2 separate regions of the Homo sapiens genome follow, and region 2 is linked to region 1. The links come from fine-mapping of genetic effects on gene expression. Tissue or cell type: whole blood. Region 1 holds a variant in brackets; the other region holds the start of a gene. All regions are shown on one strand. Distances are between the middles of the regions.

What was found. PIP is the estimated chance that this variant, and not a neighbour inherited with it, causes the effect.
Region 2: CCNDBP1 starts here. The variant in region 1 is fine-mapped to the expression of CCNDBP1 in whole blood (TOPMed, PIP above 0.99).

What each region holds. Positions count from the first base shown.
Region 1 is chr15:43,124,506-43,132,770 of GRCh38, forward strand. It overlaps the pseudogene SPCS2P1. Among named protein-coding and RNA genes, the nearest start is that of TMEM62, 4.9 kb to the right of the region's middle. The variant G/A (reference allele first, on the strand shown) is at 4,501.
Region 2 is chr15:43,181,509-43,189,508 of GRCh38, forward strand. CCNDBP1 (cyclin D1 binding protein 1) reads left to right here and starts at 3,895. Exons shown (of 11, transcript NM_012142.5): 1 at 3,895-4,099; 2 at 4,312-4,371; 3 at 4,646-4,725; 4 at 7,691-7,772. The coding sequence starts at 3,991. It overlaps TMEM62 (transmembrane protein 62), which reads left to right. Exons shown (of 14, transcript NM_024956.4): 14 at 2,752-3,636. The coding sequence ends at 3,078. LOC124903478 (a long non-coding RNA gene) reads right to left here and starts at 4,379. Exons shown (of 2, transcript XR_007064604.1): 1 at 4,261-4,379. RefSeq lists silencers at 3,621-3,920, 4,141-4,230 and an enhancer at 4,401-4,500.

The DNA of each region.
Region 1 (8,265 bases):
AAAATACAAAAAAAATGAGCCAGGTGCAGCGGCAGGCGCCTGTAGTCCCAGCTACTCGGGAGGCTGAGGCAGGAGAATGGCATGAAACCGGGAGGCAGAGCTTGTAGTGAGCCAAGATCGTGCCACCGCACTCCAGCCTGGGCGACAGAGCGAGACTCTGTCTCAAAAAAAAAAAAAATAAATAAAATAAATAAACATTTAATGGAGAAAAATAGAGAAATAGAGTGTATACATTTATTATTATTTTGAGATGCAGTCTTGCTCTGTTGCCCAGGCTGGAGTGCAGTGGCATGATGGTGGCTCACTACAGCCTCCGCCTCCTGGGCTCAAGTGATTCTCCTGCCTCAACCTCTCAAGTAGCTGGGACTACAGGGGTGCACCACCATGGCCAGCTAATTTTTTTGTTAAGACCAGCCCAGGCTGGTCTTAAATTCCTGACCTCAAGGGATTCTCCTGCCTAGACCTCTGAAAACACTGGGATTATAGGTGTGAGCCACTGAGTCTAGCCTTTTCCTGAATTTTTTTTTTTTTTTGAGACAAAGTCTCACTCTGTCACCCAGCCTGGAGTGCAGTGGCACAGTCTTGTCTCACTGCAACCTCCACCCCCTGGGTTCAAGTTATTCTTCTGCCTCAGCCTCCTGAATATCTGGGATTACAGGTGTGCACCACCAGGCCCAGCTAATTTTTTGTATTTTTATTAGAGACTAAGGGTTTCACCAAGTTGGCCAGGCTAGCCTTGAATTCCTGACCTCAAATGATCCGCCCACCTCAGCCTCCCAAAGTGCTCAGATTACAGGCACGAGCCATTACACCCAGCCTTCCTGAATATTTTTGATCCACAGTTGGTTGAATCCACAGATGCAGAACCCATGGATATGGAGGGCCGATTGTACATCCATACTGTAAAACCATCACTACTATCCATCTCCAGACTTTTTTCATCTTGCAAAACTGAAACAGTGTTCCTATTAAACATTAACTCCCCATCCCCACTTCCTCCCAGTCTCTGCAAACCACCATTCCACTTTCTGTCTCTGTGAATTTGACTACTCTAGGTACCTTATATAAGTGGAATCACACAGTGTTTATCTTTTTGTGACTGGCTTATTTCACTTAGTATAATGTCCTTAAGGTTGATCCATGTTGTAATAAGTCAGAAATTCCTTGATCTGTGATTTTTTTACTTTTGCAGGTGTTTCAGGTTTCTTGTAAAGAGCATTGATTACCTAGATGAAATTCTTCCCAAATTTCTGTTTTGTTAAGGAATAAAAGGAGTGCTCCCTCAAAAGCTTAAAAAGCGTATATACCTAAAGTAAAATAGTTCATCCTACCATAAAAACACATGCATGCAAATATTTACTGCAGCACTATTCACAATAGCAAAGACATGGAATCAACCTAAATGCCCATCAATTGTAGACAGGATAATGGAAATGTGGTACACATACACCATGTAATACTACACAGCCATAAAAAAGAATGAGATTATGTCCTTTGCCGCAACATGGATGGATCTGGGGACCATTATCCTAAGCAAACTAATGCAGGAACAGAAAACCAAATACCATATGTTCTCACTTAAAAGTGCGAGCTAAACAACGAGAACACATAGACACAAAGAGGGAAATGACACACACGGACCTACTTGAGGGTGGAGGGTAGGAGGAGGGAGAGGATCAGAAAAAAAAATAACCTGTTGGGTACTGTGCTTATTATCTGGGTGACTAAATAATCTGTACACCAAACCCCTGTGACATGCAGTTTACCTGAATAACAATCCTGCACCTGTACCCCTAAACCTAAAATTAAAGTTAAAAAAAAAAGCTTTAAAAATGTCTAGTACACACCAGTGTTCATTGTAGCATCATACACAATAGCCAAAAGAGGAAAACAACTCAGGTATCCATCAACAGATGAATGGATAAACAAAATGTGGTCTATACATACAATGCAATATTATTCAGCCTTAAACGGAAGGAAATTGTGGCACATGCTACAACATGGATGAACCTTGAAGCCATTATGTTAAGGGCTGATGGTTGCATAACAATATGGATGTACTTAATTGCACTGAATTACACAACGTCTCACTCTATTGCTTGGGCTGGAGTGCAGTGGCGCAAAATTTCGGCTCACTGCAGCCTTGATCACCGGGGTTTAGGTGATCCTCCCACCTCAGCCTCCCAGGTAGCTGAGACTACAGGCATGCGCCCACCACACCCTGCTAATTTTTTGTATTTTTAGTAGAGACAGGGTTTTGCCATGTTGTGCAGGCTGGTCTCAATCTCCTGGGCTCAAGCAATCTGCCTGCCTTGGCCTCCCAAAGTGTTGGGATTACAGGGGTGAGCCACTGTGCTCAGCCTATTTTACCACAGTTTAAAAAAATAATTAAAAATAATCTTAATCCCAGCACTTTGGGAGGCCGAGGCGGGCAGATTACTTGAGGCCAGGAGTTTGAGGCGAGCCTGGCCAACATGGTGAAACCCCGTCTCTACTAAAAAATACAAAAATTAGCCGTACGTCGTGGCCCACGTCTGTAATCCCAGCTACTTGGGAGGCTGAGGCATAAGAATTGCTGGAACCCAGGAGGCGGAGGTTGCAGGGAGCCAATATTGTACCACTGCACTCCAGCCTGGACGACAGACAGACCTAGACTCTGTTTCAAAAAACAAACAAACAAACAAACAAACAAACTTTATATATATGCAACCTATTTTAATTACATTACTTTAGCTCTCTATATAAATGACTTCACAAAACGATTTAATACTATATTTTTGTATTTTTAACAAAGTCAGTAAGATAGTGATTTGAAGACAATTATGGCTGGGTGTAGTGGCTCACGCCTGTGATGCTAGCAATTTGGGAGGCCAAGGCAGGTGGATCACTTGAGGTCAGGAGTTTGAAACCAGCCTAGCCAACATGAAGAAACCCTGTCTCTACTAAAAATATTTTTAAAAATTAGTCAGGCATGGTGGCGGGCTCCTGTAATCCCAGCTACTTGGGAGGCTGAAGCAGAATCACTTGAACCCAGGAGGTGGAAGTTGCAGTGAGCCAAGATCCCATAATTGTACTCCAGCCTGGGCAACAAGAGCAAAACTTTATCCTCCGCCCCCCGACCACCCCCCCTCGCCCAAAAAAAGACAATTTCTGCATCTTATGTTTATGAGAGTCACTTAATTCAATATATGGCTGTTGGTGACAATGTACGTTGTACTGTAAAATGTCTGAGTGATACATTCTCCCTTGACTTTGGTTCTAGGTAAGTTTGCTTTCATGGTGAATTGCTGCCTGCTTTCTTTATAAGAAGAACTCTATTTACCTTTCTGCTTTGACTGTCAGGAACTGAGACACCTTTTATGCTGAATTGAAGTGATTAGCTGGTCAAACCAGTATTTCCCTGGAGAATCATTAACCATCATTAAATAAATAATATCCTGTTCCTATTCACTTTGAACACCATGAGTGAAGTGGCTTGGTTGGAGTACAGTGTCTGAAATTGAGACTGCTGGCTTTTGTGACTTTGGACCTTGTCCAAATACTTTAACAGCATGATTCTTCCTCTTGTTGTGCCCCATTTCTAGAAAATGATTTCCTGTATCTTTGAGGTTTCTCTAATGTTACGGGAAGTCAGGGACCCTAAACGGAGGGACCGGCTGGAGCCGTGGCAGAGGAACATAAACTGTAAAGATTTCATGGACATTTATCAGTTCCCAAATAATACTTTTATAATTTCTTATGCCTGTTTTTACTTTAATCTCTTAATCCTGTTATCTTCATAAGCTAAGGATATACGTCACCTCAGGACCACTGTGATAATTGTGTTAACTGCACAAATTGATTGTAAAACATGTGTGTTTGAAAAATATGAAATCAGTGCACCTTGAAACAGAACAGAATAACAGCGATGATTAGGCAACAAGGGAAGACAACCATAAGGTCTGACTGCCTGTGGGGTCGGGCAAAAAGAGCCATATTTTTCTTCTTGCAGAGAGCCTGTAAATGGATGTGCAAGTAGGAGCGATATCACTAAATTCTTTTCCTAGCAAGAAATATTAATATTAATATCCTGGGAAAGGAATGCATTCCTGGGGGGCGGTCTATAAACGGAGGCTCTGGGAGTGTCTGTCTCATGTGGTTGAGATAAGGACTGAGATACGCTCTGGTCTCCTGCAGTACCCTCAGGCTTACTAGGGTGGGGAAAAACTGCCCTGGTAAATTAGTGGTCAGACCAGTTCTCTGCTCTCAAACCCTGTTTTCTGTTATTTAAGATGTTTATCAAGACAATACGTGCACCGATGAACATAGACCCTTATCAGTAGTTCTGCTTTTGCCCTTTGCATTGTGATCTTTGTTGGACCCTTATTAGTAGTTCTGCTTTTTGCCCTTTGAAGCATGTGATCTTTGTACCTACTCCCTGTCCTTACACTCCCTCCCCTTTTGAAACCCTTAATAAAAAACTTGCCGGTTTGAAGCTCAGGTGGGCATCATGGTCCTCCC[G/A]ATATGTGATGTCACCCCCGGTGGCCCAGCTGTAAAATTCCTCTCTTTGTGCTCTTTCTCTTTATTTCTCAGCCAGCTGACACTTATGGAAAATAGAAAGAACCTATGTTGAAATATCGGGGGCGGGTTCCCCATACTCTAAGGTTTTTGCAAATGCATTTTACATATGCCACATTCCTTGGGTTTTAAATTAGATCATCTCAATCATGTCTCCCAAATTTGGTTTTAAAATATCCTTCCACATGTTTTCTAGTGGTGTAGTATTAGATAAAACCAAAACCAAAATTTTATTTTATTGATATGGGTAATGCTCTCCATTCATACATTACAGCCCTGGTCCCTCAGTCACTAGGTTCCACATTTTGGCACTATTAAAAAAAAAAACAAAACTTTTATTTTCTTCCCTTGAATATCCAATCAGGTGCCATGTTCTATAGTTTTTATTTTTAAAATTATTGTTATATCTGATTATTCCTTTCTAATCTCAATGTTGTATTCTCCCATCTTTCTTCTTCAGGTCTTTGTAATTACCCCACTACCTGGATTATTGCAATCTCCTTCCAACAGGATTCTCTCTCACACCTATCCTCTGGACAGCCAGTTCTCTATGCCGTTGCCAGATCCATCTTGCCAAAGCAGAACTCTGTTGTCTTCACTCTTGGCATTTACAAAGGCCTTCCTCAATGTGCCTCAAGCCAAGGGTCTGGTCTAATTACCATTATTCCTCTTGGCATAGCCTAGCCAAACTGAAACACTCACTGTCCCTGCAACATGCCCTGCATTTTCTCATCTTAATGCTTTGGTTCGTGTTGTTAGGTCTTAGTGCAAAGTGCTTTTACCCACCCCAACCTCAATCTCTGCCAGTCAAGAAATATTACCCATCCTTTATATGTGGCCTCCATAATTAAACTTTTCTTGATTCTTTCCAAAGATGTACTGTCTCCTAGTTTGTTGTTGCTTTTGTTGTTGTTGGTGGTGGTGTTTGAGACAGTATCTTGCTCTGTCACTCAGTCTGGAGTGCAGTGGTCCAATCTCAGCTCACTGCAACCTCCACCTAATGGGTTCAAGTGATTCTCCTGCCTCAGCCTCCCGAGTAGCTGGGACTACAAGCACGTGCCACCATGCCTGGCTAATTTTTTTGTATTTTTATTAGAGACGGGCTTTCACCGTGTTAGCCAGGATGGTCTGGATCTCCTGACCTGGTGATCTGCACGCCTCAGCCTCCCAAAGTGCTGGGATTACAGACGTGAGCCACCGTGCCCAGCTTCTCTCTCCTAGTTTTAACCTTCCCCCTGCCTTTTATATCTGGTCATCTCTTGTGGCAAAAAGCATATTCTTCATATATTAAACTTACTTATGTATGTCTCTCTCCTACATAAGCTCTTAAGATAATGAACTATAGCTCTTTGCCTACTTACCTTTATGTTTCTTTATGTTTTCTGATTAGATCAATGTATTCTATTCCAAAGGTACTCCAAAATTTAATTGAAAATTTTAAATTGAAAATTCAATTTAATTGAAATTGGCATAAATCCAATACTGACAACATGCCCCAAGGAAAAAACTCAAAGGGAGTTTTTTTTAAAGAGCACTACTTGTGTAAAAATATTCACTCAGCCAGGCGCAGTGGCTTATGCCTGTAATCCCAGCACTTTGGGAGGCCAAGGCGGGTGGATCACGAGGTCAGGAGATTGAGACCATCCTGGCTAACATGGTGAAAACCCGTCTCTACTAAAAATACAAAAAATTAGCCGGGCATGGTGGCGGGTGCCTGTAGTCCCAGCTACTCAGGAGGCTGAGGCAGGAGAATGGCATGAACCCGGGAGGTGGAGCTTGCAGTGAGCAGAGATGGCGCCACTGCACTCTGGCCTGGGTGGCAGAGCGAGACTCTGTCTCAAAAAAAAAAAAAAAAAAAAAAAAAACAACATATATATATATATATATATATACACACACACACACGTGTATACATTTACTCAGAACAGGCAGAAGCGGATAAGATGGCAGCAGCAAGCAGCTGATCAGGGTGGGAGAACCAGTGGTAGTGGAGGCAGTAGTGGGGCTGGCGGTGGTTCCAGGTGCGGCACAGGCAGTGGCCATAGCAGCTTGTTGGATAAGTGGAAGACAGATGATAAGCCTGTAAAAATTGACAAGTGGGATGGATTAGCTGTGAAAAACTCTTTGGATGATTCTGCCAAAAAGTTACTTCTGGAAAAATACAAATATGTGGAGAATTTTGGTCTCATTGATGGTCGCCTTACCATCTGTACAATCTCCTGTTTCTTTGCCATAGTGGCTTTGATTTGGGATTATATGCACCCCTTTCCATAGTCCAAACCCATTTTGGCTTTGTGCGTCATATCCTATTTTATGATGATGGGGATTTTGACCATTTATACCTCATATAAGGAGAGGAGCATCTTTCTTGTGGCCCACAGGAAAGATCCTATAGGAATGGATCCTGATGATATTTGGCAACTGTCCTCCAGTCTTAAAAGGTTTGATGACAAATACACCTCTAAGCTGACCTTCATCAGTGGGAGAACAAAGCAGCAGCGGGAAGCCGAATTCACCAAGTCCATTGCTAAGTTTTTTGACCACAGTGGGACACTGGTCATGGATGCACATGAGCCTGAAATATCCAAGCTCCATGACAGTCTCGCCGTAGAAAGAAAAATAAGGCCGGGTGCGGTAGTTCACGCCTATAATCCCAGCACTTTGGGAGGCCGAGGCGGGCAGATCACAAGGTCAGGAGATCAAGACCATCCTGGCTAACACGGTGAAACCCCGTCTCTACTAAAAAATACAAAAAATTATCCAGGTATGGTGGCACGTGCCTATAGTCCCAGCTACTGGGGAGGCTGAGGCAGGAGAATGGCCTGAACCTGGGAGGTGGAGCTTGCAGTGAGTCGAGATCGTGCCACTGCGCTCCAGCCTGGGCGACAGAGCGAGACTCCGTCTCAAAAAAAAAAAAAAAAAAAAAGAAAAATAAAATAGCCAATTCTAAAAGTAGCCCTCTTTCTGTTGGATCTTGCTGAATTACTGGTTTGTGGGGTGGGGGAGATAAAAAGAATTTAAAATGGATAAAGTAAAAAAAGTTTAAAAATCCCTGTTTTGTCCTGAAATTTTAGTCTGTTCTGGATAAATAGGATTTTCTGAGAGAGATATGAGAAGTTGTAGCTCTGATGTCTAGCTGTAGTCTCCTGGGTCTGCTGATTGCATTATTTTAATTTGCTTTTCTGGGAAAGCAGTTTTGCTAAAAGCTGTACAGACTTTCCTTTGTACCTAGTAGTACTTTATATAGTATAGCTTTGGGCTATGTAGCATTTTAAGACTCAATTAATAAAAAATTAATCTGTTGCTGACTCTGTTAATTCCTATTTCCACATGTATTTCCTTGAAGAATTCAGGATACGACTTCTTGTGTATGACAGTTTTCCTTCACACACTATTTTTGTGGGTGTGTATATATCTGATTTGGGGAGAATTTAAAAAACACATAGCTTTTTAATTTGTTTGAAACAGACCTTTTGCCTGTTACATTTTGTGCTCTTAACCAATTAAAGAAGCCAATGACATGTTAGTTTTATATTGTGTTTTCCACTAGTATATCCCTGTTGATTTGTTTGTGCCTTTTATTAACTGCCATTTTCTAAAATTTTTTTCAATAAAGGGAAGACGTGAAAAAAATTACTCAGAACAGCAATATATAATAAACAATTAAAAAATCAACAATAAGGGAGTTGTTAGATAAATTAAGGTAGG
Region 2 (8,000 bases), 57 kb after region 1:
TTTTTTTTTCCCCAAGACAGTGTTCTGCTGTCGCCCAGGCTGAAGCACAGTGGTGCAATCTTGGCTCACTGCAGCCTCCACCTCTTGGGTTCCAGCGATTTTCCTGCCTCAGCCTCCTGGGTAGCTGGGATTACAGGCATGTGCCACCATGCCTGGCTAATTTTTGCACTTTTAGTAGAGACAGGGTTTCACCATGTTGGCCAGGCTGGTCTCGAACTCCTGACCTCAGATGATTCACCTGCCTTGGCCTCCGAAAGTGCTAGGATTATAGGCGTGAGCCACCATGCCTAGCCTAAAATACATTTTTGTCATGAAGTGTTTATAAGAGGTGAAAGAAGTTTTTGTTGTTTTTGTTTCACTGTGCTTTTTCATTGACAAAAAAATGAAACAAGGGATTATGGTAGAAAAAGTTTTAGATTTCTGAGTAAACCAAAACTGATTATGATGATGAAGAAGGAAAATATTTTAGAGGGAGGAAACTAAAAAATAGACACATTAAAAAAATGGGTCAGTTATTCAGTGGAAACTGCATTATTCAAAAACCAGACCTGGGCTTTCCTAGCAATGTACTTGTTTAGGAAACAAACTGATGTATTAGGTTTACATTTGATTCCTTTAAAATAAACACACAAAGAACCTTGATCCATAGAAAAACTACATAAACAGATTTGAAAAGTATTTATCTAACAGTTTCTTTATTTTACTCACCTAATGGAGTTAGTGGACCAAAATTTGAAGTTTTGGAAGAGATCCAAAAACATTCAAAATAAGTTCATGGCCTTCTAACAGGGCAGTAGAACATGATCCAACAGGATTAGAGACAGCCAAGTAGGAAAGACTTCTGCCTAGCAAACACTGACCCAAGTCCAGAATATTCTCTGCATAGCAGCATTATATACATGAGTAGGTCCTGGGTTCATTTCAGTTTTCTTTTCTTTTCTTTTCTTTTTTTTTTTTTTTTTGAGATGGAGTCTCGATCTTGTCGTCCAGGCTGGAGTGCAATGGCATCGTCTCGGCTCACTGCAACCTCTGCCTCCCTAATTCAAGTGATTCTCCTGCCTCAGCCTCCCATGTAGCTGGGGTTACAGGTGCCTGCCACCATGCCCGGCTAATTTTTGTATTTTTAGTAGAGACAGGGTTTCACTGTGTTGGCCAGGATGGTCTCGAACTCCTGACCTCAGGTGATCCGCCCGTCTCGGCCTCCCAAAGTGCTGGGATTACAGGCGTGAGCCACTGCACCCAGCCTCATTGCAGTTTTCTATTATGTTGATGGAGGCTGTCTCTAAGGAGCTCTCTCATACCAAATGAATCCTGAGCCTTACCAAAAGGCAGGGTTTTTTCCTTTGTAAATGTTTACATTCATATTCTAATAAATAGTACACTAATAATGGATTTTATGTATCATCCAGACCCATGAATCCCAAATCTATATCTCTGATCTAGACCTCTTCTCTGCACTTCAAGTGCCTCTATATCCAATGGCCACAGATGTCTAACAGGCATCTCAACTTCATGTGATGTCTCTCTGATAGGAACATTATTTCCACCCCAAACCTGTTCCTCTCTGTTTTTCCAGTTTTAATAAATGACTCCACCATTCACCTGATTTCTCCAAGATGTATCCTCAATTATTCCCTTTCCTTCATACCCTGTATCTATTTCACCAGCAAGCTCTACCTTATTTGATCTGCTTCCAATGCATATCTTGAATCCATCCACTTCTCTCCATTTCTGTTTTCCTAATCTAAGTTGTAATTATTTCTTGCCTGGGTCTTCTCCCTGATATTCTTGCCTCCTTACTCTCAGCTTAATACAGAGCATCCAGTGTGCTCTTTTAAAAACTTTACAATCAGCTCACTTACTTTTCAGCTTGAAATGCTTTGAAGCAGAGCAGTGATCTGGGTCCTGCCGACTGCCCCAATTTCCACCTGGCTCATGCTCTGCATGCACTTCCTTAAAGAGGCCAAGACCTCTCCCACCTCTGGGCTTTTCATTTGTTCCTTCTGCCTAGAATGCACTTCCCTCCGCTGATTCATTCTTGTCCTTCTGGCCTCTGAGAGCCTTTCTCCCAGTTACCTTCTCATGACCCAGTTCTTTCCTTCATTGAACTAATCACGATCTGTAATTATATTTTTTGGTTTTTTTTTTTGTCTGTCTTCTCCCTGTTAGAATGTAAGCTCTATGACGGACCTTTTCTAACTTGTTTGCCATTGTGTCCCCAACTTGGAGCCTAGCTCATGCCTGCTACATAATGGGTGCTCAATAAATATTTGTTAAATGAATGAATCATACAGCAGCTCAACTTGGATTATAATTTAGATACTCTAATTTATATTCCAGTACTTATCATGCTACCTCAAACAAAAATGGAGGTAAGAAAAAAAATACTGATAGCCAAGTCCTCCCCTCACTCCACCAAAAAAGAGGGGTTGTTGTATGTGTGTGTATACATTTACTCAGTTCAATTCCAGCTTAACACCATTGGGTATTAACTGTGTATATGATACTGTACTACAAGTTGGGACTTCAGCATAAATTAAATGATACCTGCCTCTAAGATGAATAAAAGGACATGGGCAAATACACAACTAGCCACAAGTCAGCTGTTGTGTTATAAGCAACTGTGCTTGAAGTAAATTAGCTAACGCCAAGACAGATAGCAGCATAGTCTTAGGATCCACTAATAATGCATTATTAAGACCAAACTCTTCCAAGGACTTGGGAGTAAGCTATGGTTCTGTTCTTTTCCAGCTGGCGTTTTTTAACATCCCCTTGATGGCTTACATGTGTTGGAGCTTGCTGCAGCGGTGCTTTGGTCACAACTTCAGGTCTCATCTCCATCAAAGAAAATACTTGAAAATTATGCCTGTTCACCTACTTATGCTACTGCTGTACATCTGGCAGGTTTATTCCTGCTACTTTCTTTATGCAACATACGGCACCCTAGCTTTTTTATTCTCCCCTTTGCGGACCTGGTTGACACTGCTGACACCTGTTCTCATTCGTTATGTGTGGACACTGAACTCCACCAAGTTTGGAATCTTCATGGTGCAGTTAAAAAGCCACCTGAGCTCCTGAAGGCCATGTCTCACCACTGGCAGCTGGGCAGAAGCCCAGCCTCTGTGTCTGTAGCCCAGGCCTCTACCCCAGTAGCAGGTGGAGGGCCAGGATTGGTGGGTGAGCTTTAGGGAGCAGCTGCTCGTTTGGAGTCCTGGACGTTGGAGGGATTACCCACTACTGATACCTGCAGAATGGACTGCAGAAAAGTCTCAAAAATAATGCCTTTATTCCTTCCCTCCCTAAGGAGGCAAAGAGTTGATTTACCTTTGTGAAGAGAAAACCCTTATCTAGGACATCCACAGGGTAGAGGTTGGGTGTGTGTACGGGAGTGTCTGAGGCCCAGTGTGTTTTTTAGGGTTACCCCATGTAAAGCACTTACCGCTGTGCTTGGAATTCAGCAGCTGTCAAAGGTGCAATTTCAGGGGCAGGGAACCTTTGAGGATCTGGGCCCGACCCTCACTACCCCTGAGATATTAGTTCCCAGGCCTGTTTTCCCACAGGATTGTGGGCTCTCTGCTTCCTTAGTCGGAAGTGTTTTCAACTAATCAAATAAATGAATGAATGATGAATAAGAAAGACGGTGAGCCTGAGGCTTGCTTGTGTAGCCTGGCCTAAGGGGCAAGAGAAGGCGTGGCCTGTCCTGGCCTCTGAGAGTGGGATGGTTGGTGCTGTACCTCAGGGGACAGGGCGGGGCGGGAGGAGGCGGGGCCAGGCCTGGTCTCTGATAACGGGATGGGTGGTGCTGGACCTCGGGCGGGGCCGGGCCTCGTGGCGGGAGGAGGCAGGGCAGGGCCTCTGGGACGGGGCTGGACGGCTTGTTGACGGAAACGAGCCCTTGACGCTGTGGCCCGGAAGTGGAGCGGCTGTCGCAGTGCGGCTCCGGCAGTGGCAGCGGAGGCCTGTGTTTGCGGCCTTCGGCAAGCGACTGAGATGGCGAGCGCAACTGCACCTGCAGCCGCAGTCCCCACCCTGGCTTCGCCTTTGGAGCAGCTCCGGCACTTGGCGGAGGAGCTGCGGTTGCTCCTGCCTCGAGTGCGGGGTGAGCTGACGGAGTTAGAACGGGCGACGGCAGGGGCGGGCTCGGGGTCGGGGAGAGGCCGGGCTCGGGGTCGGGGAGAGGCCGGGCTCGGGGTCGCGGAGAGGGCGGGCTGGGGCGGCGGCGGGGAGCCGGGCTTGGGCGAGGGAGGTGGCTCCGCTTACCTCAGCTTTTCCATTCGCCACCGTTCGGCCCCCACACGCCACACCCACAAGTCGGCGAAGCCCAGGAGACCACCGAGGAGTTTAATCGAGAGATGTTCTGGAGAAGACTCAGTGAGTGCGCCTCCTTCCGGGCTCCCCTTGCCTCAGTTCCTCCAGCGTCCCGACCCCTTTTCCTCCCGCTGTCCCCCACGGAGGGGACTGCTCTCCCCCGCTGCATCCTTTCTGTGAGGTACCTTACCCACCTCAGCACCTGAGAGGGTGAAATAGAATTCTAACCTCGACATTCGGGAAGTGTTTTTGAGAAGTCTCGGTCGGTAAGGGAAGTCTTCCAAGTCCGTGCAGCACTAACGTATTGGCACCTGCCTCCTCTTCGGCCACCCCCCAGATGAGGCAGCTGTGACTGTGTCAAGGGAAGCCACGACTCTGACCATAGTCTTCTCTCAGCTTCCACTGCCGTCTCCACAGGTGGGCTTCACTTTCGTGGAATCCTTGGGCTGCCGAGTTACACCTTAGGAATCCTCTAATTTTCTTTCCACCTTTTGCACGCACGCCAGGAGATTTCTTTTCTTCATCTGTCCAGTGAGGTTACCGTTTTTACTTCACAGGATTGTTGTGAAGACCGAATTGCCAAGTGCAGTTCCTGGCGCGGAGTAGGCAGGTCTTATAAATATTGGTTCAGTCTGAAGTTTATCCTGGTTGTTTCCCTTCTGATAATTTTTTAAGCACTTTTTATTTGCTGGGTGTTTTCACATACTTGATGGCCATCTGACAGATGAGCAAGGAGGCTCAGAAGCTCAGCTTAAGATTTAAAAAAAAGCAGGGGGGCTAGAATTTAAATCAAGGTCTATCTGATGTCTAAGCTACCTATTCTGTTATACTGCATAATACCCTTTTTATATTATTTTTTATATTTAATCAGTAACATATGTAGATAGTACAAAATTCAACAGATATCAAAGTGTGTTAAGTTTACCTTTCCACCCACTTTCTCATTTTTGTCTCCCCCAGTTCCTTTTGCATTATTCCACGTATATTCTGTGCATATATACATTCATATACATTTATCTGTATGTGTCAGCTTCTTTTTACACAAATGATACATAAACACTGTTCTGGACCTTCCAACTTAGAATTACTGCAAACAGTGTCGTGATGAATTACCTAATTCTGTGTATGTGTGTATATTGGTAGAAAAAATTCCCGGAAGTAGAATTGCTAGAACAAAGATTTATGCATTTTAAATATTCCTTTATTATAAAACTAATGAAAGTAAACATGTTGGCTATGACCACGTATGCTCTATGCTCAGTTTTTCTAGAGTTGTGTATGCTTAATATAGGAGTAAGATTCTTTTAAAATGGCATATTCATTGCCTTATTTGATTTTCATAGTCAATTGTTTTAATTTTTCAGTCTACATATATAGGTGTTTGGAAAGGATATAAATATCTTCTGCTGCATGTACCTACAGTGATAAACTCTCTCCTCCTACATACCTTTGAGATTTTTTTTTTTTTTTTGAGACAGAGTCTCTCTCTGTCACTCAGGCTGGAGTGCAGTGGCACAGTCTGGGCTCACTGCATCCTCTGCCTACCGGGTTCAAGCAGTTCTCCTGCCTCAGCCTCTCGAGTAGCTGGGATTACAGGCACCTGTCACCACGCCTGGCTAATTTTTGTATTTTTAGTTGAGACGGGGTTTCACCATGTTGGGCAGGCTAGTCTCGAACTCCTGACCTCAAGTGATCCGCCTGCCTTGGCCTCCCACAGTGTTGGGATTACAGGTGTGAGCCACCGTGCCTGGCCTACCTTTGAGATTTGTGATGAGGAAACAAGAGATGAATTGTATGAGAGCACTTCAAAAGATTCATGGAAAATACTTATTTCAAAAAGAGTAGTTAATATTACCTTATTTTTCTTATCTGCTAACCCCTTTCTTTCAAATGCACTTAGGACTTGCTGCTAAAACTCACTGCAAGTAAGATACCACAAGGAGGCAGCATAGAACTGATTTTCTATACATGCTCAGGACAGTAGTTTCACTCATAGATGAAAAGTTAGAATTTGGATTTATTTGAAATATATACAAATATTCAAGTATATACATATATTCAAATAAATACATATATGTATATATGTGTGTATATACACACATACATACACATGAATCATCATTGCCTTCTTGAGATCTCACCACTTTAGTCCTACTAAAAGATGGGTGGTTGTTGGTTTTTTTTTGTTGTTGTTGTTGTTTTTTAAATTCCAATCTGTATGGAATGATACTTTAATAAAATTATGTGCTCGGATGTTGAATAAATGTCAAATTGCCATAAAAGTTTCTAAACACTCTCAGTCACTGCTTATCTCATCCCTGACTGGTCACAAACAGTTTGTAGACTGGCTCCAACCTGGACCACATTTGTATAGTATTGACTTAGAATTTAACAGAAAATTGAGGACAAGGAAGATGAGAAAGCCAGTGACCACCTAGAAGGAAAATAGTTAACATGGAGCATTGTCGAGTCCATGCTAGTTACCTTTAGTTACATATTCTGATTCTGTTAAAAAAAGAGAGAGACCTGGTTAATGGTTTAATAACCATGGTCTGTCAGTTGGTCTGTCTGTCTCTCTCCCTCCCTCTCTTTTCTGTAAAGGGCCAGTTAGTAAATATTTTAGATTTTGTAACCAACTACCCAACTCTGCCCTTATAGAGCAAACACAACTACAGACATTAAAACCAGTGAGTATGGCTGTGTCCCAATACACTTCATTTCCAAAAACAGGCAGTGGGGCCTGACTTGGCCTGAGGACCACAGTTTGCCAGCTCCTGGTCTAAGATATCATGAATATCTTGGGATACAGAGTATCAGGAATAAGTTTTTTCCTGCTGTTTCTTAATGGTTTATTGAGTTGTCAGCCCAATATCTACTATATAGCTAACTCCTCCCTGGTATGTGATGAGTATAGTAGGCCTGCCTTCATACCAGGACTTCAGAAAATGTTTGATGATGCTGTAGAAATATCTGCCCTAGGCCGGGTGCAGTGGCTTACACCTGTAATCTCAGCACTTTGGGAGGCCAAGGGAGGTGGATCACCTGAGGTCAGGAGTTCGAGACCAGTGTGGCCAGTGTGGCAAAACCCCATCTCTACTAAAAATACAAAAAATTAGCTGGGTGTGGTGGCGGGTGCCTGTAATCCCAGCTACTTGGGAGGCTGAGGCAGGAGAACTGCTTGAACCTGGGAGGTGGAGGTTGCAGTGAGCCAAGATTGCGCCATTGCACTCCAGCCTGGGTGACAGAGTGAGACTCTGTCTCAAAAAAAAAAAAAAAAAAAAAAAAAAAGAAAAAGAAAGAAAAGAAAAAGAAAAGAAATATCTGCTCTATTCCACAGCAGAAGGGTTGACCACTTTGATCTAATCTGTTTCCTTTTTCATAGGAAACCCAGAAGTTCTGTGAACAAGTCCATGCTGCCATCAAGGCATTTATTGCAGTGTACTATTTGCTTCCAAAGGATCAGGGTAAGCCACATAAGTGTTGCATTTATCGTGTAGATCTTTGCTAATATTGTGGATTATGTCTTGTGACTTTTACCTTTACCCAACTTGAACATGTAACTTTCTCCCATAAAATACAGTGAAGGATAATTTTGTAATGTAAGTGACTTATATAAACAAGCCATTATTCTAAGATACAGATGCTTTGTTCCTATGACTTCCCATCTCCCCTGCCTTGCCTGACTCATAAGG